Linked DNA regions of Homo sapiens. The protein of the gene in region 4 purifies or fractionates together with the protein of the main gene of each other region. This does not show direct contact. Each region holds a gene or a part of one and is shown on either strand. Other genes may lie near its edges.

Region 1 (4,220 bases), on a different chromosome or scaffold from region 4:
AAAAAAAAAGTAAGGTGAGATCACAGAGGACTGTGGGGTCGGGTATCAGAACACTCAGGGCTGGGCCCTGCCTCTGACCTCACCAATGATGACCTTGGGCACATCCCTGGACTTTAGTCACTTCTGTGATTAGGGCTTTCAGTGAACATGCTGCCGACAGGGTAGGTTTTCTATGAATGCTTTCTTCCTCTGCCAGTTCTGATGTTCTTTGAGTCTATCCTTGGAGGTAGGATGAAATGGGCTAGGTTTGACCTAATGTTTTCTCATCCTTTAGCCACCTCCTCCTAGAGGCCCCTTTTTCCTTAGCATAGTTCTGTATGCCACAAAAGATGCAGAAAAAAATTAGACACCATCAATTTCCAAAGAGCTATAGTCTTCTGGGAAAATGACAAGCGATAGGGAGAATGTGAAAATGTCAGTGGATGCCAATAATCCCTGTGTGACATTTGGCCTTATCTAAAATATGCTAAGATAAAGAGGGATGGAAGAGGGTGGTATTTTCTGACTTCTGAGGTCCTTTACAACACTATCATTCTAAGATTCTCCTGTGAGTATATATGTGTCGGGGGAGTGGGTCTCTGCATGTCCAGATGTACATGTATGTTAACAAAAATAAGGAATGTGTCCGATATATGCAGACTTGGGACAATTCTTTCCCATTCTTTTTACTTTTAAATAGATATATAATAGTTTTATTGAGATATGATTCATGTACCATACAATTCACCCATTGAAAGTGTACAGTTAGGGCCGGATGTGGTGGCTCATGCCTGTAATCCCAGCACTTTGGGAGGCCAAGGCAGGCAGATTGCTTGAGCGCAGGTGTTCGAGACCAGCCTGGACAAAATGGCAAGACTCTGTCTCTACTAAAAATACAAAAAAAAAAAAAAAAAAAAGCCAGGCGTGGTGGTGCACACCTGTGGTCCCAGCTACTTGGGAGGCTAAGGTGGGAGGATTGCTTATCCCTGGGAGGCAGGGCTTGCAGTAAACATTCTCCTGCCTCAGCCTCCTGAGTAGCTGGGATTACAGGTGCTCGCCATCACGCTCACCTAATTCCCGCCCCCCAGCCCAAGGAGTCTTGCTCTGTCACCCAGACTGGAGGGCAGTGATGCGATCTCAGCTCACTGAACCTCTGCCTCCCAGTTTCAGGAGATTCTCCTGCCTCAGTCTCCCAAGTAGCTGGGATTACAGGCATGTGGCACCATGCCCAGCTAATTTTTGTATTTTTAGTAGAGATGGGGTTTCACCATGTTGGCCAGGCTGGTCTTGAACTCCTGACCTCATGATCCGCCCGCCTTGGCCTCCCAAAGTGCTGGGATTACAGGTGTGAGCCACTGCGCCTGGCCAATTTTTGTATTTTTTATAGAGATGTGGTCTCACTATGTTGCCCAGGCTAGTTTCAAACTACTGGGCTCAAGTGATCCTCCTGCCTCACCTCCCAAAGTGCTGGGATTACAGGCATGAGCTACCGGGTCTGGCGTATTACCCAATTGTTTTATTTACTTTCTCTTGATTGCTAGTAAGGTTGAGCCTCTTATGGTTTATTGTCTGTATTCATGTTGCCTGTGAATTACCTGTTTGTTTCCTTTGTTCCTTTTTCTTTTAAGTTATTTGTCTTTTTCTTCTTGATTTGTAGGTCTTTATTCTAGATAGTAAACCTTTTGTCATTTAAATATATTATAGGTATTTTCAATATGTTACTTGTTTTTTTAACTTATCTTTCATTGCATAGAAGTCTTTAATTTTTATGAGGTTAGGTTTATCACTCTTGTCCTTTATTAAAACTTTTAGGTTTTGTGTCTTTCATAGGAAGCCCTTCCTCATTTTAAAATTAGAAAATATTCTGGCCAGGCGTGGTGGCTCATTCCTATAATCCCAGCCTTTGGAAGGCTGAGGCAGGTGGATCACCTGAGGTCAGGAGTTCAAGACTGGCCTGGCCAACATGATGAAACCCCGTCTCTACTAAAAATACAAAAAATTAGCCAGGCATGGTCGTGGGCACCTGTAATCCCAGCTACTCACAAGGCTGAGGCAGGAGAATTGCTTAAACCTAGGAGGTGGAGGTTGCAGTGAGCTGAGATTGCACCACTGCACTCCAGCCTGGGCAACAAGAGTGAAACTCTGTCTCAAAAATAATAAAATAAAATAAAATAAAATAAAATATTCTGTATTTTCTTTAAATACTTAAGTTTTTTTTTAGTTTGTATAGTTCTTTAATACATCTGAACTTTATTTTATAAGATAACAGTTTGACGCTATGTTTTTTTCTACATGGAAATTTTCCCAAGGCCATTTACTGAGGCCATCCTTTCCCCACTAATTTAAAATAGGGTGAGAACCTTTTAATGGATTTTGGTACCAAGTGAGAAACTGCTTTCTTAAAAAGAATGAACTAGTTTATGCAAACTGACATGGGCAATGTGTATCTGCCCATTTCACTGCAGCCTTGCGAGTATTAGTATGGTTGTTGTATTGATTGTAATTTAAGTTAATTTAAATTACAACTTAATTTGTGTTTATATTGATACAAAGTTATTTTCATTTCTCAGTGATATAAATAATGGTATATGGAATACTTTATTGAATAGAATCAATGCCAAAACACCTGGTATTATAGAAAGCCTTAAAAAATGACTAGGGGCAGGCGTGGTGGTTCATGCCTGGAATCCCAACATTTTGGGAGGTCAGGGTAGCAGGATGGCTTGAGCCCAGGAGTTTGAGTCCAGCCCGGGCAATACAGTGATACCCTGTCTCTACAAAAAAATTTTTTTAAATTAGCCAGGTAGGTGGCACACACTTGTAGCCCTGCCTACTCAGGAGACTGAGGTGGGAGGATCACTTGAGCCTAGGAGGTTGAGGCTCCCGTGAGCTGGGATCGTGCCACTGCACTCCAACCTGCACGACAAAGTGAGACCCCATCTCAAAAAAATAAAGAAAGAAAGAAAATACAAGAAAAGGGCCGGGCACGGTGGCTCACGCCTGTAATCCCAGCACTTTGGGAGGCCAAGGCGGGCGGATCACGAGGTCAGGAGATCAAGACCATCCTGGCTACCACAGTGAAACCCCGTCTCTACTAAAAATACAAAAAATTAGCTGGGCCTGGTGGTGGGCACCTGTAGTCCCAGCTACTCGGGAGACTGAGGCAGGAGAATGGTGTGAACCCGGGAGGCGGAGCTTGCAGTGAGCCGAGATTGCGCCACTGCACTCCAGCCTGGGTGATAGAGCGAGACTCCGCCTCAAAAAAAAAAAAAGAAAATACAAGAAAAGAAGCGTGAAGACAGAGGCTCCCGCGTCACCTCTCATTTTCTTCCATTTTCTCTTCTGTGCCTTTCACAGGATCTTCTGCAGGACAACTGGTCCTTATCACAGCCAGGGTGACCACAGAAAGGACTGCAGGAACCTGCCTATATTTTAGTGCTGTTCCAGGAATCCTACCCTCCAGCCAGCCACCCATATCCTGCTCAGAGGAGGGGGCTGGAAATGCCACCCTGAGCCCTAGAATGGGTGAGGAATGTGTTAGTGTCTGGAGCCATGAAGGCCTTGTGCTGACCAAGCTGCTCACCTCGGTAAGAGCCTCAGATGGGTCGCCAGGGTTTTGTAGACTGCCTGCTGACTACTGTATCTTGAAGGTCCCTGGAAACAATTCTACCTTGTAGAAAAAGCACAGGTTTTATAACCCTGCCTTGGGGGCTGTGTGACGTAGAACAAGTGTCTAAACATCTCTGAGTGTCAGCATCCTCATCTGTAAAACAGAAAACATGACCCTATCTCTTAATTCCATCAAATAAGGATTAAATGAGAATGACCGTGAAGTGCCCAGCACATTGCCTGGGACATAGAGATTTGATAAGTGACAGCTATTGTTGTTTACTATTGTCTTTAAAACATTCTCTCTACTTCAAAGGAGTTCAGAAGCTATAATAAGAGGCAAATGGGCTAATTGCTATTAGAGAGATGTGAGCAAAGTGTTATGCAAACACAGAGAAAGGAGCCATTAACCCTAACTTGAACATTTATGGAGAGTGCATCACAGAGAAGGTGGCATTTACCAGAGAGCATTGTGCACAGTGGTTTATAATGCACAAAGTGCTCTCAGGGTTCATTAATTCATTTGATCTTAAAATAGCCTTTTGAGGTAGGTGTTATTATCCCATTTTACAGATGAGGAAACAGGTTTAGAGAAAGGGAGTGAATTGCTGCAGGCCACACAACTGGTTAAG
Region 2 (4,992 bases), on a different chromosome or scaffold from region 4:
TCCAGCCCAAGTTTCTGATTTAGTAGGTCTGGGGTTGGGCTAGGGTTGCCAGAAAAAAAAAACAAAAAAACGGCAATGCCTAGTTGAATTTGAATTTCAGAGAAACTTTTTATGTTCCAAATTCTGCAATATTTTATTTTTATCTGCTAAATCTAGCAACCCTAGAATTTGCATTTCTAACAGATTTTGAAGAGATGCTGATGCTGCTGGTCTAGGGACCTTACTTTGAGAACCACTGAGATATAGGATATTACGTTATCACCAAAAAGGAAAAACTGGGGGAGGAGGGAAGCTGAGTAGATCAGGTAAGAGTTCCTGAAGGAAAGGACAAGGACATGGGATGGGTCTTTAAGGGTGCCTAGAAGCTAGCCAGAAGAATACTGAGAGGAAAGCTTTGAGCAAAGGGGCAGAAATGTCAGAAAATGCCTGACGTTTTAAGGAAATTACAAGAAGCTTAGTGTTGCTGGTGCATAAAGTTTAATGCAGGTGGTGGTAGATAAAACTAAAAGGACAGAGGCCAGAAAGTACTAGGACCTTATGTACCCTGTGAAAAAGCACTTAGGGGTTTACACTGTAAAACAGTCAGCTTACCCGATGGGGAGCAATTTAAAGGATTTTAAGCAGAGCAGGGACTTGATCAGATTTGCATTTTTAGAAAGATCATTTGGGTGGAGGATCAGAAGCATGATTATGTGTTCAAGAGTATTTGAAATACGGTTATTTATGGAAACCATTTTTAATATAATTCTGCACAGACACAGACTGCTGGAGGCTACACCAGAGAAGGGAAGGAAATAGAACAATACTCAATTCATTATGAAATTTATTTAAAGTCCCTGCTAACTTGGCTCTCACTGATGCCAGAAGGACAGCATTTAATTTTTAAAGATACCAAATAAAAATGCATGGTTACAAAACTTTGTAGTTGTCTAGAATACATTATTTTGAACATTTATTCTTAAGCCTCTTTGATAATGTGTAAAATTATTTAAAATAAGACTTAAAAACAGGTATTGACATTATAATAGCGTTCATGCTAATGAAAGAATTTCTGCAAAAAAAATTAAAAAAATTAAAAAGCAGCTTCCTATTTACTGCCTATTTCATTTCTTAAGCATGTTTATGCGCCTTTCTACTTGTCAGAAATAAAACCCATTACAATGAAGATGTCCAGACTTAAGGCTCAAAGGAGGCTAAGTGTTAGTCCAGAGCTGGAAATCCTGGAGGCCAGTCCTATTTTACCAGAGTGGACCTAACGGGCTTTAATTTTCTCAACTGTGAACTGAGTTAGAATAGATCATTTGCAAAGCAGCATTCTCCTTTACCAATTTCCAACATCAGCAAAGGACATCTTCACCTATTTTCAAACAATATTTAAGGACAAAAATGTGTTGTCCAGTGTGTATATAAAAGACATTAAAATATTCTTGGCTTAATCAAGGTCACTTATCTAAGATTCTACATGTCCTGAAAGACCAAGCGTCAAAAGGAATATTCCTTTCAGTGTTCTTTTTGAGTATATTTCGCTATGGTACCAACAGCTATATTAGCAAAAGACATAAAAGTGCTGCCTTGGAATGACACTTGTTTTCACTGCACATTCATAGTACAAAACCTGTGACCCATCAGTTTTGCGGCTGAAGGGAAAAGTTAATTTGTCCATATTTCATTTTTCCTTATTTAAAATAAGGAGATAATCGATAGGAACAAAAGCTAAAATATACAGTGGCCATGAAGCAGGCACCACTTAGAAACCTCTGTATTAACGTTAGGAGCCAAGTTTTATTACCCAAAAGGGCAGGCTGGCTGAGGAGTGGAGGCTGGATGCATCGTCTCAGCAAATGACTACTGCAAAGCTGCCACGCTTGCACAAACTCAGGGATGTTTATTTATTAGCTTGTTTCCTCAAAATGAGTTTAGGTCATCAGCAGAGATTAAAGCAGGCCTCTACACCACTCTATGAAATCCTGATTCCCACGGCGCATTCTGGGACAGTGAGTGTCCACGAAGACCATACCTGTAATCGCAAAGCTTGGGTTGACAGCCACACTGCTGCTTGCAAACCATACAGTAACTGCACAGGGGCACGTTGCCCCGGATCCAGTGGTGGGGCATGGCGTCCAGGACCTTGGTGTCATTCTTGAGCATAATCTCCTTGCACTGGAAGCGCTTGTCGGCCTTCCTGAGGCAGCCCTCGTCCACGCGGAGCCCGCAGCAGTCGCAGAAGGCGCCCTGCAGAATGTGCTGCGCGCACACGCAGCAGTAGGTGGGCTGGCTGAACAGGTCCGTGTCGCGCCACCCGTGCTTGCTCTTGCGGAAGATGTCCCTGCGGTGCAGCTGCCGGCGCGACCGCTGGAGGCTACACCAGAAGGTGATGAACACCGGCAGCAGGACCGAGCACAGCGTCCACAAGATCAGGTGCCCGTCCGCAAACAGGCCCTCGGAGGGCGAGCCCGGCGCCGGCCGCCTCTCCGCTTCCATCTTCTCCAAGGACGATACCTAACCAGAAAAGAAACAGGCGGTGCACCCCGAGCTCGCCATCCCTTCCCCGCCCCCTTCCTGCCTTTCCGGGGCCAAACCGGGCGCCCTCAGTGAAGGTGGCTCCGCTCTCCCGAGGGCGGGACTGCGCCTCGTCCCCCCGTCTCCCGGGACCTGCCGCGCCGAGAAGGCGACGTCCAGCCATCACGCTCCAATCCCCACTCCCCAACCCGCCCCACCTCGGGAGCGCGTCCAGGAGCCCAAGGCGGCTGCTGCTGCCGCCGCCGCCTCACCTTGCCGCCGGTCTGACCCACGGAAGGGCGCAACATACAGGGGCAAGCTGCCCTCCACCGAAAGGCCGGGCGTTCAGGCCAGGCAACGCCGGTCGGCGCCCGTAACCGTCGGCCCAGGCCTCGCACTCCCCTCCGGGGCGCCGTCTCCTCCCGGGCCCCACCCGCTCCCACGCGCGGCCCGGCGACCCTAGCCCCTCTCGGGAGGCCTCCGGAGACCTGCGCCGCGCCGGTCCTCGAAGCCCTACCTCGCGCGGGTGGAGGCGCGGCTCCGGGCCAGCAGGCCTTGGCCGCCTCGCGCAGGAGGAGAACGACGCTGGGCCGCCAGCAGGGATGAAGCCGGGCGGGGGAAACGCTTAAGGCTCCAGCCGCACGCACGCCGATCCGGCGCGCGGGGCCGCGAGCTGGAGGCGGGGCCTGTGGCGGCGAGCCCCGTGGCTGGGCGGAGCCAGGGCTGACGGGCGGGGCGGAGGTGTGAGGTGGGAGGGGAGACGGACCGGCCTGAGGGGGCGGGGCCGTGGAGGAGGCTGGAGACGGATGGAAGAGGCAGGGCACTGCGGCTGGGGGCGGGGCCTAGGGGAAGGGGGCGGAGTAACAGTGGGGCGTTTGAGAGGATGGAGGGTTGAATGCCAAAACTTCGTAATCGTAGAAAATTCTGGAAAGCCGCCGGCGGGGCAAGGCCACGAGGATCCTCCTCGCAGCACCGCGCCGCGCGGGGCCCAGGGGCCGCGCTCACGCCCGCCGCTCGGCGCAGACACGAGTGCCCCCGACTTGAGCCGAACCTCTAGCCGATGCCGGCGCCGCCGCCGCCGGGGATGCGTAAGCCGACTGGGAAGCGAGGGGGGGAGGCGGCCTGCGCGGCACCGCCCGACCTGGCCGCGGCGGGCTGAGGTAGGTGTGGCGGCCGCAGTAACGCAAACCTGAGGGCTCCTCCGCTGCGGAGCGGCGGGCGGGCGCGGAGGCCGAGGGCGAGCGGGGCAGCCGCCCGCTCGTCGCCGCTGACCCCGAGCCCGGCCGCGGTTTCCGCCCCCTGCCGTGGCGGGCGGGCCTCCCCTGCGCTACCCCCTCGCCCGCGCCCGCCAGCGCCCGAGGCCGGGGAGAAAGGGGAGCAGCGGGAGCCGGGGACTACCGGAGATGGGAGCACGCCTCCTGCTGCTGTCGTCCAGCCCCAGGTTCCGGAGGAATGCTCGCTCCCCGCTGGAGTCCTACCAGCCCAACACGGACCTGAGCCGCGACCACGCGGGCTGCAGCCTGCAGCACATCAGCTACCCGGAGAACGCGGACGCGGAAGCACCGCTGCTCAGCACCCCCGAAGAAACACGGAATCCAGAGAGGCACAGGCACCGCCCCGGCGCGCACAGCTGCACTCAGCGGCTTCCTTCCTACTACATACATACATAGGAGTGGGAGCCGAGGACCACTTGTTGCTTGCGGACTTCCTCTAGCATAAAAGATGGAAAGAAAACACACACCGAAGCAAGGGACCAAAGGAACAGAAAAGAAACGCAGAGATCATAGGAAAACTGCAAAGAAATACTTGATAATATCTTCCAAACGATTAGAGAAGACATAACATTCATTAAGAATACACATATAGATGTATATATACGTGTATGTGTGTATGTATATATTATTATGTGTGCATATATATGCATGTGTATGTGCGTATATTTGTATTAACTGTAGAAGATAAAGCTAGACACTAGTAAAAGTGGTAAAGCAGATTTTAATAATATACTATTGTAATAGGGAAGAAGGTACCTCGTGAACGGAACTGAACTTTGTGCAGAAGTGACTAGGTGTTTAAGAGGGAGGAGGAGGGAATGTGAAGGGGATGAGCAGGAACTCAGTAGTCAGGAAAGTGAAACTTGTGAAGGGTGGGTCAGTGTAAGTAAGGTTAGGCGACAGTGCCTGTTAGATGGCTGTTATGGGAGTCAGGGTCCTATCCTCCCACAGTAACTGGGAGATAGGCCCTTTGCTTCCTGGTGATTGCATGTTGGAGGAATGGCTTTCAGGTTCTTGAGAAGGATACTCCTGATGTGTAGGAGACATTACATCCCAGAGAGACAGAGGAAGGATTCACAATTGTTTAGTTTTTTGTTGTTGTTGTTAACTCTTTAAGAAAGGGACATCAGGGGCTGCTTGTAAGGTGTTGGCAATAGCCAACAGTGAGTTCTTTTGGCAGCTTTCCCAGGAAGATACTTTAGGGGGTCTGGGGTCATCC
Region 3 (4,220 bases), on a different chromosome or scaffold from region 4:
GCAGAACTTCTGGCCGGAGACGTTAACATCGGGAACCACCTCACAGCCTGGAGGGAGAGAAGGGGTGGTCTAGGAGGTCGGGAGGGGAAGAGCCGCCTGAGGTCCTGGAGTGCATCCTAGCCCACACCGTCACCTCAGGACAGAGGGCATCTTCCCCGGTCTCCAGGAGGAAACAGGGCCGGTGAGAGCATTCACCTGCCTAGCCCACAAGTGGGGATCCCCCCACCCAGCCCCTGGCCCTGTGCACTTACCCTTGAGGTTGAGCTGCTGAATGGGGTCCCCAGGGGCCTCGTCCTGGCTCTTGTAGTAGGACAGTGTGGTCTCCTTGAACACCACCCAGTGTTGGCGGTAGCCCTTCAGGGTCAGCTTCCGGGGCCTTCGTGGGATGCTGGGGTTTGTGAAAGGCCGCCTCACCCCCTCCCTCCATATGCAGACCAACCCCTCCAGCAGGGCTGCCTACTCTGGCCCCCAACTCACCGAAAGATTCGGAGATGGTCCTTGAGCTCTGGGATGGTGGTGAGGCTGTCCTATGGGAGGACCAGAGTCAGAGGGGCACCCGGTACCTCACAGTTCTCCCTGCCCAGCCCCTGCCCTGAGCCCCTCCTCACCAGCACATCTGTGGGCGCCGACCCCTCCAGCTTCACCTCCAGGTTGCTCAGGGCCACATCCAGGTCGTCCAGCCCTGGGTCTGTGCCAGCCGGCTCCCCCACCTCCCCGCTCTGGGACAGCTTGTTGATGTGGTACTAGGTGGTCATGAAGCCAGGGAGGGCTGAGTCCAGCAGCCTGGTCCCCTAGCAGTACCCCCAGGCCGGGCTTCCCTGGAGGTAGCCCCCACTCAGGAAGGCCCTTCCTGCCCTGGGACTGGCTCACCTCCCACCTGCCCTGGTGCCCCCAGGCCCGCCTGGTACCTGCAGGGCGGCAAACACCATCATCTCCTCCTCGGTGCAGTCAATCTCCTCCAGCAGCAGGTCCCACCGGGCCTGCTCATACAGCTGTGTCAGCCGCACGGGGTCTGTCTGGAGCGGGGGGAGAGGAGGCTGGAGGCTGGGCTGGTCAGATGCCAGCTGCCCTGGACGCCCTGCACTGAGCCCCTGCCAGCCTTGGCCCTCTGCCCTGCCCTCCTTGCTGAGGCAGATTCATTCAGTGGCCAGACATGGGCCACAGACCTCAACCCCATCCTTAATAGCCTGCTAGCCCCCTGCTGCCCAGGCCTGCACGTCTAAACCTTGGCTTGGTTGTGCTGATGTTTACTGTGTGCTGGCATGCTGCCCTGGGTGCAGGAGAGACCGAGTAAACCAATCAATAAGTCAAATAATCCAAGGCTGCAATAAACACTATCAAGGAAACAGTTTCCACAGGGAAGCTCACATGAGCCCTCAGTCTAAGGCCCCCCCAAGTTCAATGGAGATGACAGAATGGAACATGGGGAAGCAGTCAGGGAAGGCTTCCCTGAGGAGGTGACAAGCTGAGTAGAGATAGGAAGGATGACAGTGGGCCACTCAAGGGAAGCGTGAAGGAAGAGGATTCCAGAGAAAAGGAACTGGGAAGGCAGAGACTCCAAGAGGGGATCCCAGTTACCCACAGAAGACCAACAATCCCGCTGAAACTCACCCAAAATTGATAGCAAAGGTTTAGGAAGATAAACCCAAAAGGACAAAGGACAGGCCGGGGCGGTGGCTTGCGCCTGTAATCCCAGCACTTTGGGAGGCCAAGGCAGGCAGATAGCTTGAGCCCAGGAGTTTCAGACCAGCTTGGGCAACATGGTGAAACCCTATCTCTACTAAAAATACAAAAAATTAGCCACATGAGGTGGTGCGTGCCTGTAGTCCCAGGTACTCAGGATGCTGAGGTGGGAGAATCACCTGAACCCATGAGGTTGAGGGTGCAGTGAGCTGTAATTGCACCATTGCACTCCAGCTTGGGGGATAGAGTGAGACCTTGTCTCCAAAAGAAAGAAAAAGAAGGCCAGGCGCAGTGGCTCACGCCTGTAATCCCAGCACTTTGGGAGGCCGAGGTCGGTGGATCACGAGGTCAGGAGATCAAGACCATCCTGGCTAACACAGTGAAACCCTGTCTCTACTAATAATACAAAAAAATTAGCCAGGCGTGGTGGCGGGCGCCTGTAATCCCAGCTACTCAGGACGCTGAGGCAGGAGAACGGCGTGAACCCGGGAGGCGGAGCTTGCAGTGAGCCGAGATCGTGCCACTGCACTCCAGCCTGGGCGACAGAGCGAGACTCCGTCACAAAAAAAAAAAAAAAAAAAAAGGAAAAAGGAAATAATTTGGAAGATGGAGAGCAAACTGTAGATGGGAACTGGGTTATGCAGAGAGCGCTAGGGCCTCACGCCTTGTCCCTCTCCTGTCTGGTAAATCCACCAATGAGACTTGAAAATAGGCGGAAAGCAATCAGCAAAAAGAACAGAGATCTCAACAGAGGCATCCAGTTTGCATGGCGGACCCCTGGCAGGCTCTGATGGGGATCCTCTGGATGAGATGCGAGGGTGAGCTGAAGAGAGGACTCTGGATAAAGTCCAAGAAAAAAAGCAGGTCCCTCCCCAGCTCCATGCAGCCAAGTGATGGCAAGGAGACACCTGGCAGAAGCTGGGACTCACTCTCTGGAGATGCTGAGCCAGATGCACCCCTGCATTTGGTACCCCAGACACAGCTGGACGGGGTGGGGGTTGCACTAGGGTGAAAACAGACAATTTTTTTTTTTTAAGATGGAGTTTTGCTCTTGTTGCCCAGGCTGGAGTACAATGGCACGATCTTGGCTCACCGCAACCTCCGCCTCCCGGGTTCAAGCGATTCTCCTGCCTCAGCCTCCTGAGTAGCTGGGATTACAGGCATGCACCACCACGCCCAGCTACTTTTGTATTTTTAGTAGATACAGGCTTTCTCCATGTTGATCAGGCTGGTCTCAAATTCCTGACCTCAGGTGATCCACCTGCCTTGGCCTCCCAAAGTGCTGGGATTACAGGCGTGAGCCACCGTGCCCGGCAAAAACACAAATTTAAAGAAAGCTGGCATTCAGATGAGTGACACACCCACACCCTTTCCCACTTGTCACCCAAGACATTGGCAGGAAGCCTTCTATCTCCAGTTGAAAGATCAGTGGGGTTGCCACTGAGAGGCTGAGCCACCAGAGAAATGCCCGACAAAGAGTGGCAGCCCGGCCCCATCGCCTCCAGGGGGCCACCAAGATGCCAAGCCCTACTCACACACTCAGGGTCTCCAATTGGTTTCTTAGAGCTTCACTTTTAAATATGAATGGACAGGCATGGACTACCCACATTTAAGGAAAGCTTCAAGAGTGAACCATAGAGACCAAGACAACAAGAATAAAACAGCTTGGAGGAAATAAAGGCCAGGTAGGGCGCAGAAGAGAACTTCAAACGTGAATCAAAATCCTTGTAGAGTACAAAAATTAGCTGGGCATGGTGGCACCCGCCTTTTTTTTTTTTTTTTTTTTTTGAGATGGAGTCTCGCTCTGTCACCCAGGCTGGAGTGCAGTGGCGTGATCTCGGCTCACTGCAAGCTCCGCCTCCCAGGTTCACGCCATTCTCTTGCCTCAGCCTCCCAAGTAGCTGGGACTACAGGCGCCCACCACCACGCCCGGCTAATTTTTTGTATTTTTAGTAGAGACAGGGTTTCACCGTGTTAGCCAGGATGGTCTCGATCTCCTGACCTCATGGTCCGCCCTCCTTGGCCTCCCAAAGTGCTGGGATTACAGGCGTGAGCCACCGCGCCCGGCGAAAAAATCCTTATAGAGGCTGGGCCCGGTGGCTCACGCCTGTAATCCCAGCACTTTGGGAGGCTGAAGCGGGCAGATCACGAGGTCAGGAGTTTGAGACCAGCCTGGCCAATGTGGTGAAACCCCGTCTCTACTAAAAATACAAAAATAATTAGGCCAGGCGTGGTGGTGCATGCCTGTAATCCCAGCTGCTCGGAAGGCTGAGGCAGGAGAATGGCTTGAACCAGGGGGGCAGAGGTTGCAGTGAGCCGAGATCTTGCCATTGCACTCCAGCCTGGGTGACAGAAGAAGACTCCATCTCAAAAAAAAAAAAAAAAATCCTTACAGAGCTAAAGCACTGCACTCATAAATCAAGACCAGAATATTCTTTTTTTAAAGGAATGTAACTGGGCGCAGTGGCTCACGCGTGTAATCCTAGCACTTTGGGAGGCCGAGGCGGGCGGATCATTTGAGGTCAGGAGTGTGAGAC
Region 4 (4,220 bases):
CCACAAAAACTTCTACAGTTTGAATGTTTACACTGAAGAAAAGTAATTTTTCTCCCTTTTCTGAACCAAGTATTAATATCTTGACAGATCACAGCAACATTAATAATGCTATCCAGACTGCTTACAAATTCATGAACTTGAAGGTATTGAAAATGTTCTGTATCTTGACTATGGTGGTGCTTGCAAGACCTTGTGTATCTTTGTGGAAACTCAGAGTTGCACACTAAAAAGGGTAAATTTCATGGCACGTGTAAGGCTGACTTTAAAAAAAATTATGAACCAAGAGAATTTTAAAATGTAAGAAATCAACACAGCAATAAAAAAGAAATCATGTCCTTTGCAGCAGTATGGATACAGCTGGAGGCCATTATCATAAATGAATTAACACAGAAACAGAAAACCAAATACCTACCTTACAATGCTCTCACTTATAAATAGGAGCTAAACACTGGGAACTCACTGACATAAAGATGGGAATGATACATACTGAGGACTATAAGGAAGGGAGGGAGGGAGGGAGGAGGTAAGGGTTGAAAAACTACCTATTGGGGAACGCTTTTACACTGTTGGTGGGAGTGTAAATTAGTTCAACCATTGTGGAAGAGAGTGTGGCAATTCCTCAAGGATCTAGAACCAGAAATACCATTTGACCCAGCAATCCCATTACTGGGCATATACACAAAGGATTATAAATCATGCTGCTATAAAGACACATGCACATGTACGTTTACTGTGGCACTACTCACAATAGCAAACTTGGAACCAACCCAAATGTCCATCAAAGATAGACTGGATTAAGAAAATGTGGCACATATGCACCATGGAATTTTATGCAGCCATAAAAAAGGATGAGTTCATGTCCTTTGCAGGGACGTGGATGAAGCTGGAAACCATCATTCTCAGCAAACTATCACAAGATCAGAAAACCAAACACTGCATCTTCTCACTCATAAGTGGGAGGTGAACAATAAGAACACATGGACACAGAGAGGGGAACATCACACACTGGGGCCTGTCGGGAGGTGGGGGCCTAGGGGAGGGATAACATTAGGAGAAATACCTAATTTGGTGACAGGTTGATGGGTGCAGCAAACCACCATGGCACCTGTATACCTATGTAACAAACCTGCATATTGTACACATGTAACTCAGAACTTAAAGTATAATAAAAAAAAGAAAAGAAAAGAAAAACTACCTATTGGGTACTTTGCTCACTACCTGAGTGATGGGATCATCTGTACCCCAAACCTCACATCAGATAATATACCCTTTGTAACAAACCTGCACATGTACCCCTGAATCTAAAATAAAAGTTGGAAAAAAAAAAAAAAAAGAAATCAAGCTGGTTTCAGATGACTCAACCGCCGGAGATGAGAGAACAGTATTATTTAAAATGCTAGCAAAAAGCCAGGAAAGCACTTTTACTGGGTGACACAATTCCAAAGAAATCACACCACAGTGTATCTGAATGGCACTTCTTACTTTCCACAGCTGCCACATGTACTTTCTTTTTATTTTCACAATGCTCTTAAAAGGAAATGGGGAGATACTGTAATTCTTATATTTCAGGTGAGAAAATAAAAGTTAAATGATTTGGCAAAGCTACAACATTAGTTGTATCAATGCTCTTAGTTCTTCACCCAAATTCCTTTCCAACTACCCTGACAGTGATTATTCCCAATATGATCCAAAAGGCAAACAGCCTGCTTAGAATCCAGATCCCTGAAAACACAGCTGAAGAGCTGGTCCCAAGACACCCTCTGGATAATAAAAACCCTTTCAGTATGGCTCAACCAAAGTGGTAGGATGGGAAGTTGGACAGGGTGACTAACTAGATGGAAAATGAGGTACCATCATCTCAAGGCAATGACATTTCACATTGACCTTTTCTCTCCACCTGAAAAGAGTGGACTTACTAAATGGAATTAAGATAATTCTATAGAAACCTGGAAATATTATATAACGACACAATATTACCTCACTCATGGCAGGTATATTGGTAACAATGACTAGGCTTCACCTAAATCTAGTTTAATGCAATGAACTTTTCTGCCCAACACTTTAATATTTAAAAAGTATTACCTTTAATAGTTTCTCTGCGTTGCAGTTTGTAAGTTTCCTTGTCATGACACAGTCGATAAATAAAGAAACCCAGGTGATCAATGTTTTCAATGCGATCAGTAATAACCATGTGCTCATGAATCAGATAGGACTGAGGCAAATAGGTTCCAGCCTACATTCAGAAAAGAATACATGACATGACTATCTCAGAACATACACTGAGTAGACTAGAGAAACAAGACAAAATTCTTACACATTATGGTATGGAACAGGTTGCCAAACTACTACCCACCATCTGTTTGTTTATGTTCTCACTATGTTGTCCAGGCTGGTCTCAAATTCCTGGCCTCAAGCAATCCTCCCACCTAGGTCTCCCAAAGTCCTGGGATTACAGGCATGAGCCACCGCCCCCGGCTTGTTTTTATAAGTAGAATTTTTTTTGGAATATAGTCATGTTCATCTGTTTTACGTATTGTCTATGGCACCAGAATTAAGTAGTTGGCTAATATTTACTCCCTGGCTCTTTAGGAAAACTTAAAACATTATTTGAGAAATTTATTTCAATTTCAAGATATAAAACATTAAAAACAAAAACCATGAGTATTAGTTCCTCTTTGTAAAATTCTTAACTACAGTCTGATAAAATGGGCTCCTATAGGGCTAATTTCTCAACAGGGAATTCCAGAACACTATGAAGGCATCATTCATCAAAAACAGTCAACATTCTTATACCTTGATGTTAATAAGTAACTCCAGTAGGTTTCTGGGTGGCATAACAATGGAAGTGTTCAGAGGGATCACATAGCACTTATCCAGGTTAAGATCTAAATAGGCTGTAAGTTTCTGGGAAGAAAAAGATACAGTGTAGTTACAGTAATACTTGCAAAAACAGGCAGCAACTGGATTTTTAAGAATAATTTGTATCATTAAAATGAATTGGCTTTAGAATGTATAAATCACTTGCATTTCAACAAATTCAGAATTTGGCTGGATAAAGTTGGAAGTGGGAATGGGAGAGGAAAAAATATTGCTACCAGTAAATAAAATGCTCATCGAGGGTATATTTCTATAATAAGTAATAATACCTATTCAAATTAACTGCAAATACTTATTATATAATTAAGCAATTTAACTTCCCCACTTATAAGCTCAAATGCCCTCTAAGGTTATCTGTCCATTGTTTGTAAAGATTAAATTTTCTCATATGTATCTTGAATACTACCATCCTTAGAACATTAGAAAAACAGTCATTTAAATGATTTTGTGTTCTGTGGTTCAAATGAGAAACGCTGGTTGAGAAAGACTGTCTCATAGAACGGTTTTTAAGAATAACTTAAATCAAATAATGTCAACATTTTGATTCCTAAGAGCTCAGTAAGTGTTAACTATTATTATTTACTATTTGCTTTGGAAGTTTATTTCCTTGAAATAAGTAAATTTTCAAACTGGTTTATAAACATCCATCAGATGTATTTATCAGGCACGAAATGTTTGCAAAGCTAACTTCAGTAATATATTCGAGTGTTCAAAATGGCAAGCTTACAGAGAGACATAAAAATCACAGGTGATACATGAACTTCTGAATCTCTGAATCCTGATTTGAAAAAACAAAAAATTCTTGGGACAAAAATTGGGGAAATGTAAACATAAACAGAAATGTAAACATATTAAATACAGTAGTCCCTCTTATCTGAGGTTGTGCTTCTCGAGTTTCAGTTACCTTTAGTTAACTACAGTCCACAAATACCTAGGTGAGTACAGCATAATAAAATATTTTGAGAAACCACCTTCACATAACTTTTATTATAGTATTTTGTTATAACTGTTTTATTATTATTGTCGTTAATCTATTACTGTGGCTAATTTGTAAATTAAATTTTAACATATGTATATATGTACACTAACAGGAAAAAACATAGTATATACAGGGTTTGGTACTATATGCAGTTTCAGACATCCACTGGGGGTCTTGGCATGTATCCCCCACGGATAAGGGGGGACTACTGTCCTATAAGATCATGTTAATTTTCTTAGATGTGATAATTATGTGGTTACGTAGGAGGACAACTCATTCTTGAGAGATAATAGCATAAGTACTTATGTCAAATGACAGAAAAAGAGATGAAGCAAATATGGCAATATTTGGAACAAAGTGGAGG
Region 5 (4,220 bases), on a different chromosome or scaffold from region 4:
GACAAGAAGGTGCCTGCCTTGATCATCATGGTGGGAGAAAAGCAGAGAAAAGGAGCAATAGGATACCAATTAGATTAGTGAGTGGTTTGTCCAGCCATAGCAAAACCGGCTTTTGTAATTGACTGTGCAGGGCTGAGAAGAAATTGCAGAACATTTGTTAAGCAATGTAATTGTACTGCAAGCATGGTGTATACATCCAATAAACCTTTTCCTGCGCTGAAGAACAGTTGACCCTATTACTCATCAGGCCGTCAATCAATTCTTGGCAGTTCTCCAACAGATCAGCTAGATGAGGCCAGTCCACCATGCCTATGATTTTGGTGTTTAAAATTGTTACCCTGGCTTTAAATGCTTAGATGGCATTAGCTAAGAGGTTTCTTTTTATGCTTTTACTTCAGTGGATGTGAAATCCAAAATAAATTTGCAGAAGTATTCAATGTTTATCTTTGATGGGTTGTGGCAGGCAGTTTAGGAGGTTAGACAGCACAGATCTTTCTTCAACACAGCCATTTCTTCAACCTCCTCAGATCCAAAGGGGGAACAGAACCATCTTTAAATCACTGTGAGCCTCCCTTCCTATTTCAGAATAGCTAAACAAACAGATCAAGGGCATATCTGATGACCACTACCTGCATAATTTGAGGACAAGTACTCTCGTAAACAGAGCTGATGATAACTATAAAATCTGACCTAGAAATTTGACTAATGCAAAAGGTTGAGTCTCTGTATATTATTAGAACAGCTTTGCAAGTAGCATTATTGACATGCTATAATCTTAGAGCTCTGTACCTTTGCATGGGAACCCTCAAGGTGGAGGAGAAAGGATCACAAAGCATGGTGAGGGGAGCTATGAGATGACCTATGTCCTTTCTATGTTCAACATGTGACCGAAGGCTATAAGACTGAATTTTAAAAAATTATTGTTAAGTCAATATAAGAACCCCAAAATAGTTTCCTTAAGGTTTGCATTCATATTTCAATGATGCTGGCATTGCTTAAAACATGGGGCGTTCCCTTTGGAGAGTGGGCTCCAGGGCATGATGAATATTGGCTGTCATTACCACTAGAAATCTTCATCTTTTGAGGGATTTGATTTTTAATGTGGCAAAAAAGATTAGAAACCAAACACGGTGGATTATTAGATCAAGCTGTGACTTTCAAAATAGTTTTCCTATACGGCTCATAAATAAACTCTGAAAGCAGTTGCAAAATAAGAGTTTCAATTATATTATGGGAATATGTACAAAGTGCCCCCAAAGGAAGGTGACTCTGGTGTGCTTATTTTAAAAATCAAAATAGCTTTTATTAAAATTGGTTTTGTTAATGTCATGTTGCTTGTACAGCCCAATGGTGACCTAGTAGACTTGGAAGAAACATGAGCATGTCAAAGAGAATGAGAGTAATACTCCCAAGGACTGGGGCAGGGCTGGGAGTGAACAAATAACCAAGCAGTCTCCACAAAATGCACCACCGGCTCCTGTCCCCTCACTTGGACCTTTGAACACTTTATCGTCCAAGTTTTTGGCTAGATAAATGTCTAGGCAAAAAACCTTGCCTAGGAAGGCAAGGGTAGGAGTGAAAAAGAGAATAGAGAAAAAAAGATTTTTCTTTTTAATTTATAGACTTCCATATTGTTTCTATGAGGCGTGTATTTTAACATCTAAACTTCTTAAATGTTTAAGAAATGCTCAGAGAATTAGAGTAAAGAAGGATGTAAATAATCTGCAAGCTAATTATCTCCCTGAATAATATCTGAATTCACTGCTTAAACCATGGCTTCTCTTTGGAGAGTCACCTAAGACTCGTTTCTATAAACTTCAGAGATAAATTTTAAAGCTGTTATGTATTTCTTTTTTGCACCTGCCACTCAATTTATCAAACTGTGTTACTGTCTTTAGTGAAGCTTGACTCATTTCTGAAGACTCACGTTATTGTATTCATTTCTGTCTCTCTTTCCCTTCCTTTTTTAAAAGACTGACTTTTGAGCAGGACATAGAGCGTGGCAATACAGATGGTCTGGGGGACTGTCACAGTAAGTACAGTCTTTTATCCATTTTTATCTTTGGGCAAAGATGCTTTCAGTGAATGGCCTAGAAACATCAGCTCACATGTGGAACTGAGTGCAGCTGACACTAAAGCATGCGTAAATGACGGAAATCATCTTCTAAATACCAAACAAAGAAAGCAGTGCGTTCTAAAGCCAGTGTTGTCAATGTTGTCACTATAAATGCTGGCACCTATTTCATTAATTCTAATGCAGGGGAAAAAATTCACCCTAGAGGATATTAATTGTAGCAAAGCAGTAAGTTAAATCAGCATTTCCATTACAAAATGACAGTTTTGCTGTTTTTAAAAACATGCTTTTATACTGTCATTTTCCGCCAAATAATAATAAGATTGATCATTGTACTCTAGCTTTTTAATTGAGTGGGCCTGTTTTATTCTTGAACATATCGACTAACAAAAGCAATTATGTTTTTAAATTAGATTTGTGTCTATTACCATATGTAATAGGAAAAAAAATTTCAGAAATAACCCACAAGTACAAGGCAATTCAAAATAATCTTTTTATAGGAATTGGCCTACTATGTAAATCTCAGAGATAGTTATTAAATGGTAACATTTTAGTTAGAACTTTACGTAAAGGATCTGGCTCAAATTTCTGCCCAGTTGTCATGTGACCCGATTAATATCAATATTCTCCTGAAAATGCTTTATTAATGCTAATTTAAAGAATAATACCATACTCTTGGAAAATATGTTTAGTTTGTGCTGTTTCGAATGTTATATATGCTGAATTTCAAGAAGCTTGCATTCAAAATGGCACCAAATAATAGCTTCTAAGGGAATGAAGCTATATTATCCTGATATTTGATTCTATAACGGAAGTCACGGACATAACTCTAAATCTTTCAGTCATAAGTACTGAAATTTCAGACTCTAAAGTGTCATTCAACTTTCTACCTTATCTTTTTTAGAGATTAGTTATAATCAAATAAAGAGGGCTAAAGGCAGACTTATCTCCAAATCTTTGCCATATACATATTTTTCATTTACAAATATTATATATTGGCAAAAATTCTTATTATGTCTTACACACAAAATTGATGAGTTAATAAATAAGCATAGGAGAAGTGTCATCACTAAAAGATGTATGTTACGTGTGTGCGTTCATCCGTATCAGGGAAATAGTTTGATGTTTGATCAGTGGACCTTAATCATCTTGGTGCATTATAGCTTTATTTGCAAGGAAACAGGTTTTAAGATGTGTGTGTGTGTGTGTGTGTGTGTGTGTGTGCATGCGTGCACGCTTTATTAACAGCTTAGTTAGCTGATGTTAATGAGCTATTTTCATCATATTTATATTACTTGCAATAGTGGTGTCTGTAGAAAAATAGGGGTGTAGATTTGGATCAAATCAGAAAATACGTGAAACATGTAAAGATGGTTGGTACTGTGTCTATAAAATGTCCACTATACCAGTAGGCTCACACCCTTATCTGTGTTCTCAGGCAGAAGAACCTAAGGAAGCCTCTGTATGTAGCATAGGGGACGCTCTCAGGTCCCAACCCTGTGCTTTACTCTTTATTTCCAGAGTAATCTTAGTGGTCAAGCAAGCCCCTGGATCTGCCTTCGTGCTTTGTAGTGTGCCTTTGACCTTTAACCCCACTCTTGCGGAGGCACTTGCCAAGGGTGCTTGCTCGGGGCAGGAGGTAAGGCTGCCCCTCTGCCTGCCTGCCTTTGCTCATGGCTTCTCCTCTCCCCGTGTTCCTGCTGAAGCATGAACTACCTCTATTAGACAGACCTATCCCCACATAGGTATTCAGGGAGGATTTCTCTAACTGGTACAATCATTATAACTGGTACAAAATTAACAGGATTTTAAAGGGAAATGAGGAAATCACAAAGAGCCAGTGTTAGAGGCTGAGTGAACCAGAGATCTGACCCCAACACACAGCACACACCCAGATATGTTGCCTAATATGTGTAAGGGTTTGTTTTTTGTTTTAACTTCCAAACTAAAACCCCTGATGATTTCAGAACACTGTAACACTGGACAGTTTCTCACAGCATGGTTGTGAGGATGAAGTAAAAAGAGAATGTAAAGAATAAGTGTTTTCTTTGTAAGTGTGGTCCAGGTATCACTTATGCATATGCATGTCCCTCTGTATAAAGAAGGGTTTAAACTCTCGAAGTCACCTATAATTGCAGTTACCATT
Region 6 (4,220 bases), on a different chromosome or scaffold from region 4:
GGGTGTTGGTGGGGCTGAGCTGGGAGCTGATACCCCTTCCTCTGCCCATGGAAGTAGAGGTGCTTCCTCTGTCTGTCCCACCAGGGTACTGTCAGTGTGGTCCAGCAGGGAGCTAAGCCTTGACCCCACCTGGCATCCACAAGGTGGAAGGAGATGGTGTGAGGCAGGAGAGTCCACACTCTGACTCCCTCTCCCCCAGCCAGGTCAGGGCCCAGTAGGAGCTGAACTCCAACTCTACTCCACCCCTATCTGGCACCCATGACATGGCGTGAGGTGGTTAGAGGTGGGGCAAGTTGGCCCTCTACTTTCTCACCTCCTCTCTCCCGGGAATGGAAAACATTAATCATGCAAATATTAATGAAAAGAAAGCAGGAGTGGCTATCTTAATATCAGATGAAGCAAATTTCAGAAGGAAGGAAACTACTAGAGACAAAAGGACATTACATAATGACAAACAGTTCAATCCCCAGGAAGACATAACAATCCTAAACATGTATGCACCAAACAACAGAGCCTCAAAATACAAAAAGCAAAAATCGATAGAGCTAAAGGATAAACAGACAAATCCACAATTATGGCTGGAGACTTCAACACTTCACTCTTGATAACTGACAAAACTATGAGGCAGAAAATCAGCAAGGATACAGAAGAACTCAACACCAGCAACCAACAGGACATAACCGACATATGCAGAACACTCACCTAACAAGAGAACACAGTTTTTTCTAAGTGTCCACAAAACATTCACCATGGTAGACCAAACCTCAGCTAATTTAAAAGAATTGAAATCTTGACAGGGCACGGTGGCTCACATCTGTAATCCCATCACTTCAGGTGGCCAAGGCGGGTGGATCATTTGAGATCAGGAGTTGGAGACCAGCCTGGCCAACATGGTGAAACCCTGTCTCTACTGAAATTACAAAATTTAGGCTGGGTGTGGTGGCTCATGCCTGTAATCCCAGCACTTTGGGAGGCCGAGGCAGGTGGATCACTTGAGATCAGGAGTTGGAGACCCGCCTGGCCAACATGGTGAAACTGTCTCTACTGAAAATACAAAATTTAGGCTGGGCATGGTGGCTTATGCCTGTAATCCCAGCACTTTGGGAGGCCAAGGCAGGTGGATCACCTGAGGTCAGGAGTTCAAGACCCGCCTGGCCAACATGGTGAAACCCCGTCTCTACTAAAAAAATGCAAAAATTAGCTGGGCATGGTGGCAGGCGCCTGTAATCCCAGCTACTCAGGAGACTGAGGCAGGAGAATCGCTTGAACCCAGGAGGCAGAGGTTGCAAGGAGCCAAGATTGTGCCACTGCACTCCAACCTGGGTGACTGAGCAAGACTCCATCTCAAAAAAATAAATAAAAATGAATAAATAAATAAAAATAAAAGAATTGAAATATTTTATATAAAGGAATAAAACTAGAAATCAATAACAGAAAAGACAACAGGAAAATCCACAAACACAAATTCCTGGAAAATAAATGACACATTTCTAAATAATAGCAAAGGAAAAAGTTAAAGTACACAGAATAGAATGAGAATGAAAATACAACATATGTTACAGTCACTGTGGTGCCAAGAGCATTAGAAAGCAGAAAAGGCCGGGCACGGTGGCTCTCTCCTATAATCCTAGCACTTTGGGAAGCCGAGGCGAGAGGGTCTCTTGAGCCCTAGAGTCCAAGACCAGCCTAGACAACATGGCAAAACCCCATCCCTATAAAAAATGCAAAAATCTGCCGTGCATGGTGGCATGCACCTGTAGTCCTAGCTACTCTGGAGGCTGAGGCAGGAGGATCGCTTGAGCCCAGGAGGTCAAGGCTGCAGTAAGCCGAGATCGTGCCACTGCCCTCCAGCCTTGGTCTTAGCAAGACCAAGACCCTGTCTCAAAAGAAAAACAAAAACAAAAAACCAACCAAACAAATGAAAAAAACCTACAAATTATCTTTATCAGGAACAAGACAAGGAATGAAATTATAGATCCTGCAGCCATTGAAAGGATAAGGAACTATTACAAACAATTTTACGCCCACAAATTTAGCAACCTAGATGAAACAGACCAATTCCTTGACAACCACAAACTACCAAAATGAATAATCCTATACTAATTAAAGAAACTAAATTTGTAACGTAAAAGCTCCTTAAAAAGAAATCTCTGGGCCCAGATGGTTTCACTGAAGAATTCTATCAAACATTCAAAGAATAACAACATCAATTTTATACAATCTCTTACAGAAAGGAGAAGAGAGGACATGTCCAACTCATCATCCTAATACCCAAACCAGTGAAAATAAGTACAAAAAAAAAGAGGCCGGGCGTCGTGGCTCACGCTTGTAATCCTAGCACTTTGGTAGGCTGAGGCAGGAGGAACACCTGAGGTCAAGGAGTTCAAGACCAGCCTGGCCAACATGGCGAAACCCTGTCTTGTAGGGAGACCCCCTGAAACTATTGCTATGGAATAAAAGATGAAATGCTCCTGATTACTGTAAATACAAAGTTGCATTCAGGATTGTGTAAAGACAATGCCAGGTTGGACTGTCAGAATGAGCCAACAGCACGTGATATGCTTCCCCCTGCAGAGAGCCTATGAACGGACATGCAGTCAGGGAGCTTTCACATCACCAAGATTCCTATCCCAGAAAAGCAGATGTTCATAGCTCTGGGAATGGAATGCGACCCTTGTGGAGAGCCTACAAACGGACGCATGGGGGGCGCCTGTCCATATGGATAAGATAGTGCTATAAACGCCCTCATCTTGCCACGGCTCTTCTAGGCCTCTTTAGGGTTAAGGCATACTCCCTTCTGAGAATTTCTGGTCTAACTGGCTGTCTAGCTTCACGTCCTGTTTCTATGGATTGTTTGTAACCAGCTTTTGCTGCAACTATTACTGCTGATTAATATCTTGCTAATCATAGGTTATGGAAAGCCTGTGTTTCTGTTTTAAGGCTGTTAGAAATTACTGATGCACATGCTATATTGTAAATTCTTATCTCTGTATACTGTACTTCTGCATACAGATGTTATGTTAAAGAATTACTTCATCCCCATGTGACCATCTCACCTCATAATCAAATGACCCTAAATCCCTCACTAACCTACCCCCGCCCTCACTAAACTTAATAATAAATGCTGGTATATCCAGTGCATTGGCGGCATCGCAGGACCAGAAGGCGGTCACCCCCCGGACCCAGCTTTCACTGTCTTGTGTGTGTCTATTATTTCTCGACCTGCTGATCCGCCTGGGAACAAATAAAAGAGCCCCGTTGCATTGTGGGCTTCTGGCCAGATCCCACAATACCGTCTCTACTAAAAAATACAAAAAATTAGCTGGGCATGGTGGTGGACGCCTGTAATCCCAGATACTCAGGAGGCTGAGGCAGGAAAATCACTTGAACCCGAGAGGCAGAGCTTGCAGTGAGCCGAGATTGTGCCACTGCACTCCAGCCTGGGTGATAGAGCAAGACTCTGTCTCAAAAAAAAAAAAAAAGAGAGAGAGAAAGCTACAGGCCAATATCACTTATGAACTTGGATGCAAAAATGCTCAAAATATTAATAAACCAAATCCAGCAGTGTATAGAAAGAATCACAGCATAGTGACTCACGCCTGTAACCCCAGCACTTTGGGAGGCCGAGGTGGGTGGATCACGAGGTCAGGAGATCCAAACACGGTGAAACCCCGTCTCTACTAAAAATACAAAAAATTAGCTGGCCATGGTGACGGGTGCCTGTAGTCCCAGCTACTCGGGAGGCTGAGGCAGGAGAATCGCTTGAATCTGGGAGGTGGCGGTTGCAGTGAGCCGAGATCGCACCACTGCACTCCAGCCTGGGTGACAGAGCAAGACTCCATCTCAAAAAACAAACAAACAAAAAGGAGTCACGGCATGACCAAGTAGGGTATGCAAGAACGGCTCAATGTTCAAAAATCAACCATGTAATCTATCATATTAACAAGCTAAAAAATCAACTCCTACAGGAAGGAACAACAAAACCCATATCCATTCATTATAAACACTCTCAGCAAACTTAGCAAAGAGGATATCCTCAACTTATAGGGCATCTACAAACACCCTACAGCTGTACCATTTTTCTATCATCTCTGTAGGGGGGGGTGGCAGATGGAAGGCCCAAACTGTGTTGAACTTTTCATCTTCAAACAAATGTGTAAACTTTTTTTTTTTTTTTTCAAGACAGAGCCTTGCTCTGTCACCTAAGCTGGAGTGCAGTG
Region 7 (4,220 bases), on a different chromosome or scaffold from region 4:
TTTATTTCTTTTTTTTTCCCTGCACAGTCCCCTTAGCCCCCAGCAGGGCAGCCAAATCCCTGTGGGTCCATGCCGCCACTGAAACTGACTTGTTATCTTTTAAATTGCACTCACTTTTAAGTGAAATGCTATGTGCTATTATAACTCATGACATTTTTTTTTCTAGATCATGATCTGAGTATCTGTATAAACTTATTTAAACTATTTCCTATATATAATGTTAATAATCATGTGCAACCTAAATCTGGAATCTGGAGTGACTACACAATATTAGGCAGTGGCGGTAATAATGAAATAACAACATCTAACATTTGCTGCAGATTTATTATGTGCCAAACAGAGTTGTAAGTATTGCAGCAGTTAGTTAACTCTTTAGAGCCATCCTATAAGGGAGGCTAATAATATCTTCATTTTATGGATGAGAAAATTGAGGCACAAATTTGTCTGAGGCCACACAGCTGGTACTAGTGGAGTTCAGATTCAGTGCTCATAGGCCGTGTGACTCCAGAGCTCTGACTGATCTTCGCTGGATACGACTATCACTTATCTCCAAAGTGCCATTTGAAAGGGGAGAAAACATAACGTCTTATCAATGCAAACATCCAGGTTCAGAGAGTGGATTCTAGAAAAGATAAATGTCCTTATGGCACCAGGATGTCTGCTGTTTCTTGTGCCCTGGGTACAACCTTTCATGTTTCAACCTTAGTGTTTCAAGTGGGCATATCATCTGTTGGTCTTATGGGAAGGTCCTCATCTAATGAGCTGGTTTTGGTGCTCAGCTGCAAGCTCAGCTTCATAGTGGGAGGGGTGAGAAGCTTAAAGGGTCAAAGTGGGGTACTTCCATATGTTAAAAGTGACTTTGGTGCACGTGTTTCTGTTTTGGAAAGACACATAACTCTCACATTCGCACTGACTCTGGGACAGAGCCCGCTGGCGCTAGATGTTGTTTTCCTTGATCATATGGATTCTGCCCCTCCCCCATTCTGAGAGTTCTCTTTCTTTGAGCACACCTTCTTTCTCCATTGGGGAAAATATACTGCCTTCTACATGCTTTTCCTAAGCCAAGATGGCTGTTTTTCTCTTGCTTTTCTGGCTGTACAGTTCACATGGGCAGTTGGTCAACAGCACCCTATTGCGCTGTGGATTTCAGGGGTGCTGCATAATTGCAGATTGTTCTTTTCCAAATCTATGCCTGGCTTTGCTGATTTATGCTAATCAGTGGTCAATCTTCCTCCTGTACCTTACCCTGGATATTTTGGGTTTTTTCCCCCATCCTTCAAATGCTGGCTTACTTGAAGTGTGTTATTGGTAGTTTTTTTTTTCCATTCTTGTTTTCCCATTTATACCTTTTCATATATCACCTATATTTCTCATAGTTTATCCTCTATTCCCTCTACACCATACAGTCCCTTTCATAATCCAAGTTAACAGTGTTGCCACCTGTTCATTGGTCATCTCCAGGTGACTGTTGGTCACATAATGGCAGTTTTCTTTTGGTTCATTTGTCTTGGGGAATTTACAAACCCAGTTGTTAATAACCCAAAATTTTAAATCTAGAATACTACTATTACTAATAGGTAGCATTTATTGACACTCTGGGAACTGTGTTGTTTGCATGTAACTTTTACTTTGCTAGTTTTCACAATTATGATATCTTGTGGGTATTCGTGTTCTCATTCTGTAGGTGAGTAAACTGAGTCTCGGTGCCCAGCACGTGAGCAGGAGAGCATGTAATTTTTATGAGCTCGTCTCACTACAAAGCCCGTAGTCCTTCTCCTACTCACTTCTGGTCTAAAAGTAAAATCCTTTTTAGTAAAAGATTTGCTGATAATTTATATATATAAACTATATATACATAAAATATATTAAAAAATAATATATATTTTTTCCCTCTGCTACAAAGGTATCCCTTTTTGGGATACCTTAGACATTCTGCCGCTACATACTTTCTTTTGAGATTAGAGAAGAGATTTGCAGTCCCTCTGTTACACATTTTGGCATGTGGTTTCTGAGTTCATGTTAAACGGCAGTTTTTAGTAATAGCACATATGTAATTTGCCACCTTTCCAAGATAGAATATCTTGTTTTTCAGAAGTATTGCAAAAATACTGAAGTGTTAGTATTTACAGAATGTCACCACAGTGACATTATCAGAATCCTCTTCATTAGCATTTTCACTGTTGAGTGTCCTGCAGTTAACCACCACGTAGGAATCTTTCACAACAGTGCTGCGGATTCAAAGCCCCATGTGATGTCAGGGGTTTCCCCTGGGTATCTCAGCGTGGAAAGTCTGTTTCTATCTCCATGTCTTTTGAAATGATTCTGCGGCTGTTGGTCTATGGGTAAGGACTAGCTGTTTCTACAAGTGTTTAAGTTTATTTTGATCCTAAATTTAGTCAAAGAATGAGGCATAGCAGGGAGGGGCAGTTCATGCAGTGATCCACGTGTCACCAAATGGAGAATCTCCTCTGGTCTGGGGATTTTAGCTAAGTTCAGGATAGTTGAGGTTTGAATTCTGTTTACACTTGGCTAAACATTACTTCCTGTTTCTAAGGAAAAGAACCTTAACAAAATTTGGACGTAGCCCATACAAGTGTTTTCAAAGGGGGAAGTATAAATGAGTCGGAAACGTTTCCAGATTAGATTTCCCCTAAACTACCCCTGGGCTTATGGAGCGAAGGGGGAGTACTTGGCAAGGCTGATTTGGATCTGTGAGCAGCTGGGACACTTTACCAGGCCCATGATGGCCTCCAGGTTGCACCGTCACTGACACCCAGCGCCGGAGCCAGCTCTGCCTTCTCGCCGATGAAGCAGGACTCTCATCAGGCTTACTCTGACTTTTTGCAATTTAGAAGCTCAGTCTTCCTGCCTAGGTTAAATAGATTTTGCCGCTGAACTCTATTTTTTGGTCAGTCTTTAAAAAGAGCTTAGCTTATAAGTGTTGTACTATTAAAACATTAGGGACTTTGCCTACTGGTGTTTTATTTACTTCGGAAAATCCACTTTAAATGCAAAATATGTTTTTATTTTTAGCTCTCAGAGGACTCATTGGGAGGTGGAAGAGACTTACTCATCTTGTATTTGAATCTAATGGACTAATATTTGAAAGAAATAATTCACTGTCATCATCTATATCAAATTGAAGTGGAAAATATCTTTTTCTTTCAATGTGTGTGTGTTACTTTTGTAATTAGAAAGAAGGCTATAACTATGTTATGAAGATAAAGCAGCGTGTCATCTGAAGGGCTGTCTTGGCATATGGTCCTTGTGCCTAAAGTGAAAGTGAGATGCTAACTCATTTCCTAATTCATCTTTCTGTTCTTTCATAGGTATCTGTTACTAAGGCTGAACAAGAACTGGGATTTGCCATCCAAACGTGCTTTATCTCTCCATATTCGAACCCTGATAGGATGTCTCATTACACCATTATTGAGAATATTTGTCCTAAAGATGAATCTGTGAAATTCTACAGTCCCAAGAGAGTGCACTTTCCTATCCCGCAAGCTGACATGGATAAGAAGCGATTCAGCTTTGTCTTCAAGCCTGTCTTCAACACCTCACTGCTCTTTCTACAGTGTGAGCTGACGCTGTGTACGAAGATGGAGAAGCACCCCCAGAAGTTGCCTAAGGTTTGTGGGCCTTCATCCATTCGGATGGTTATTTTGGCATTTTTAGGTGAGGCAGAAAAGTTTAATCCCAAGGTCTTGCAGGTTGAGGTTTTTTGTTTTGGAACTGCCCAACTGAAATATTAAAGTCACTATTAGCAGGGAACTGTGAGTTTTATGGAGTCTTAGATAATAAATCCTGACAGCATGAGTTTCTTTTTTCCATGCGTGCTACTTAGTAGTACCTTACGAGTGATAAATCAAGACGCTTTTCCATGGAGGGAGATTTCTGGCTTTATCTTTGCTTTTCAGATAGTTTGCAGGCCAAAAACACAGCAAGCCGAAAGGACAAGTTCATTGTGAGAATTAATTTTTCCAGGTCCTGCTGGGACTGGCATTGTCATTGTTTTTTAACCTTTTCTGTGTGAAATATAAGGTTGACTTGTCTCAGGGAGACTTCTAGGGGAAACTAACAAATATTTTAGCTTTTCTCAGTTTCATATCAGTTCATCATATTTGCCTCCTGTCACTCTCCAGATTGAATGTTCTATTGCCATAACAAAAAGCAGAACCATTTGACCTTGGTGGAATGCATTTGATAGGGGAGATCTGCAA

The links.
Region 1: the proteins of ITM2B (region 4) and TMEM219 purify together in Homo sapiens (affinity purification with mass spectrometry; 3 studies listed by BioGRID and IntAct, with this or other methods). This does not show direct contact.
Region 2: the proteins of ITM2B (region 4) and DGKE purify together in Homo sapiens (co-immunoprecipitation; one large-scale study listed by IntAct). This does not show direct contact.
Region 3: the proteins of ITM2B (region 4) and FERMT3 purify together in Homo sapiens (co-immunoprecipitation; one large-scale study listed by IntAct). This does not show direct contact.
Region 5: the proteins of ITM2B (region 4) and SEMA6A purify together in Homo sapiens (affinity purification with mass spectrometry; 3 studies listed by BioGRID and IntAct, with this or other methods). This does not show direct contact.
Region 6: the proteins of ITM2B (region 4) and CHST12 purify together in Homo sapiens (affinity purification with mass spectrometry; 3 studies listed by BioGRID and IntAct, with this or other methods). This does not show direct contact.
Region 7: the proteins of ITM2B (region 4) and TGFBR3 purify together in Homo sapiens (affinity purification with mass spectrometry; 3 studies listed by BioGRID and IntAct, with this or other methods). This does not show direct contact.

What each region holds. Positions count from the first base shown.
Region 1 is NC_000016.10:29,964,689-29,968,908, forward strand, and holds part of TMEM219 (insulin-like growth factor-binding protein 3 receptor isoform 1 precursor), read left to right. Parts: intron 1-3,336; coding exon 3,337-3,566; intron 3,567-4,220. UniProt on the Homo sapiens protein: Cell death receptor specific for IGFBP3, may mediate caspase-8-dependent apoptosis upon ligand binding.
Region 2 is NC_000017.11:56,832,285-56,837,276, reverse strand, and holds the start of DGKE (diacylglycerol kinase epsilon), read right to left. Parts: upstream 3,127-4,992; 5' UTR 3,017-3,126; exon of another isoform or gene 2,808-3,016; coding exon of another isoform or gene 2,772-2,807; intron 2,500-2,771; coding exon of another isoform or gene 2,482-2,499; coding exon 2,018-2,481; intron 918-2,017; exon of another isoform or gene 1-917. UniProt on the Homo sapiens protein: Membrane-bound diacylglycerol kinase that converts diacylglycerol/DAG into phosphatidic acid/phosphatidate/PA and regulates the respective levels of these two bioactive lipids.
Region 3 is NC_000011.10:64,216,047-64,220,266, reverse strand, and holds part of FERMT3 (fermitin family homolog 3 short isoform), read right to left. Parts: intron 1,017-4,220; coding exon 909-1,016; intron 744-908; coding exon 609-743; intron 528-608; coding exon 478-527; intron 389-477; coding exon of another isoform or gene 377-388; coding exon 252-376; intron 48-251; coding exon 1-47. UniProt on the Homo sapiens protein: Plays a central role in cell adhesion in hematopoietic cells. Acts by activating the integrin beta-1-3 (ITGB1, ITGB2 and ITGB3). Required for integrin-mediated platelet adhesion and leukocyte adhesion to endothelial cells.
Region 4 is NC_000013.11:48,256,810-48,261,029, reverse strand, and holds part of ITM2B (integral membrane protein 2B), read right to left. Parts: intron 2,905-4,220; coding exon 2,794-2,904; intron 2,234-2,793; coding exon 2,083-2,233; intron 1-2,082. UniProt on the Homo sapiens protein: Plays a regulatory role in the processing of the amyloid-beta A4 precursor protein (APP) and acts as an inhibitor of the amyloid-beta peptide aggregation and fibrils deposition. Plays a role in the induction of neurite outgrowth.
Region 5 is NC_000005.10:116,473,357-116,477,576, reverse strand, and holds part of SEMA6A (semaphorin-6A isoform 2 precursor), read left to right. Parts: intron 1-1,973; coding exon 1,974-2,032; intron 2,033-4,220. UniProt on the Homo sapiens protein: Cell surface receptor for PLXNA2 that plays an important role in cell-cell signaling. Required for normal granule cell migration in the developing cerebellum.
Region 6 is NC_000007.14:2,427,460-2,431,679, reverse strand, and holds part of CHST12 (carbohydrate sulfotransferase 12), read right to left. Parts: intron 1-4,220. UniProt on the Homo sapiens protein: Catalyzes the transfer of sulfate to position 4 of the N-acetylgalactosamine (GalNAc) residue of chondroitin and desulfated dermatan sulfate.
Region 7 is NC_000001.11:91,711,652-91,715,871, reverse strand, and holds part of TGFBR3 (transforming growth factor beta receptor type 3 isoform a precursor), read left to right. Parts: intron 1-3,329; coding exon 3,330-3,629; intron 3,630-4,220. UniProt on the Homo sapiens protein: Cell surface receptor that regulates diverse cellular processes including cell proliferation, differentiation, migration, and apoptosis.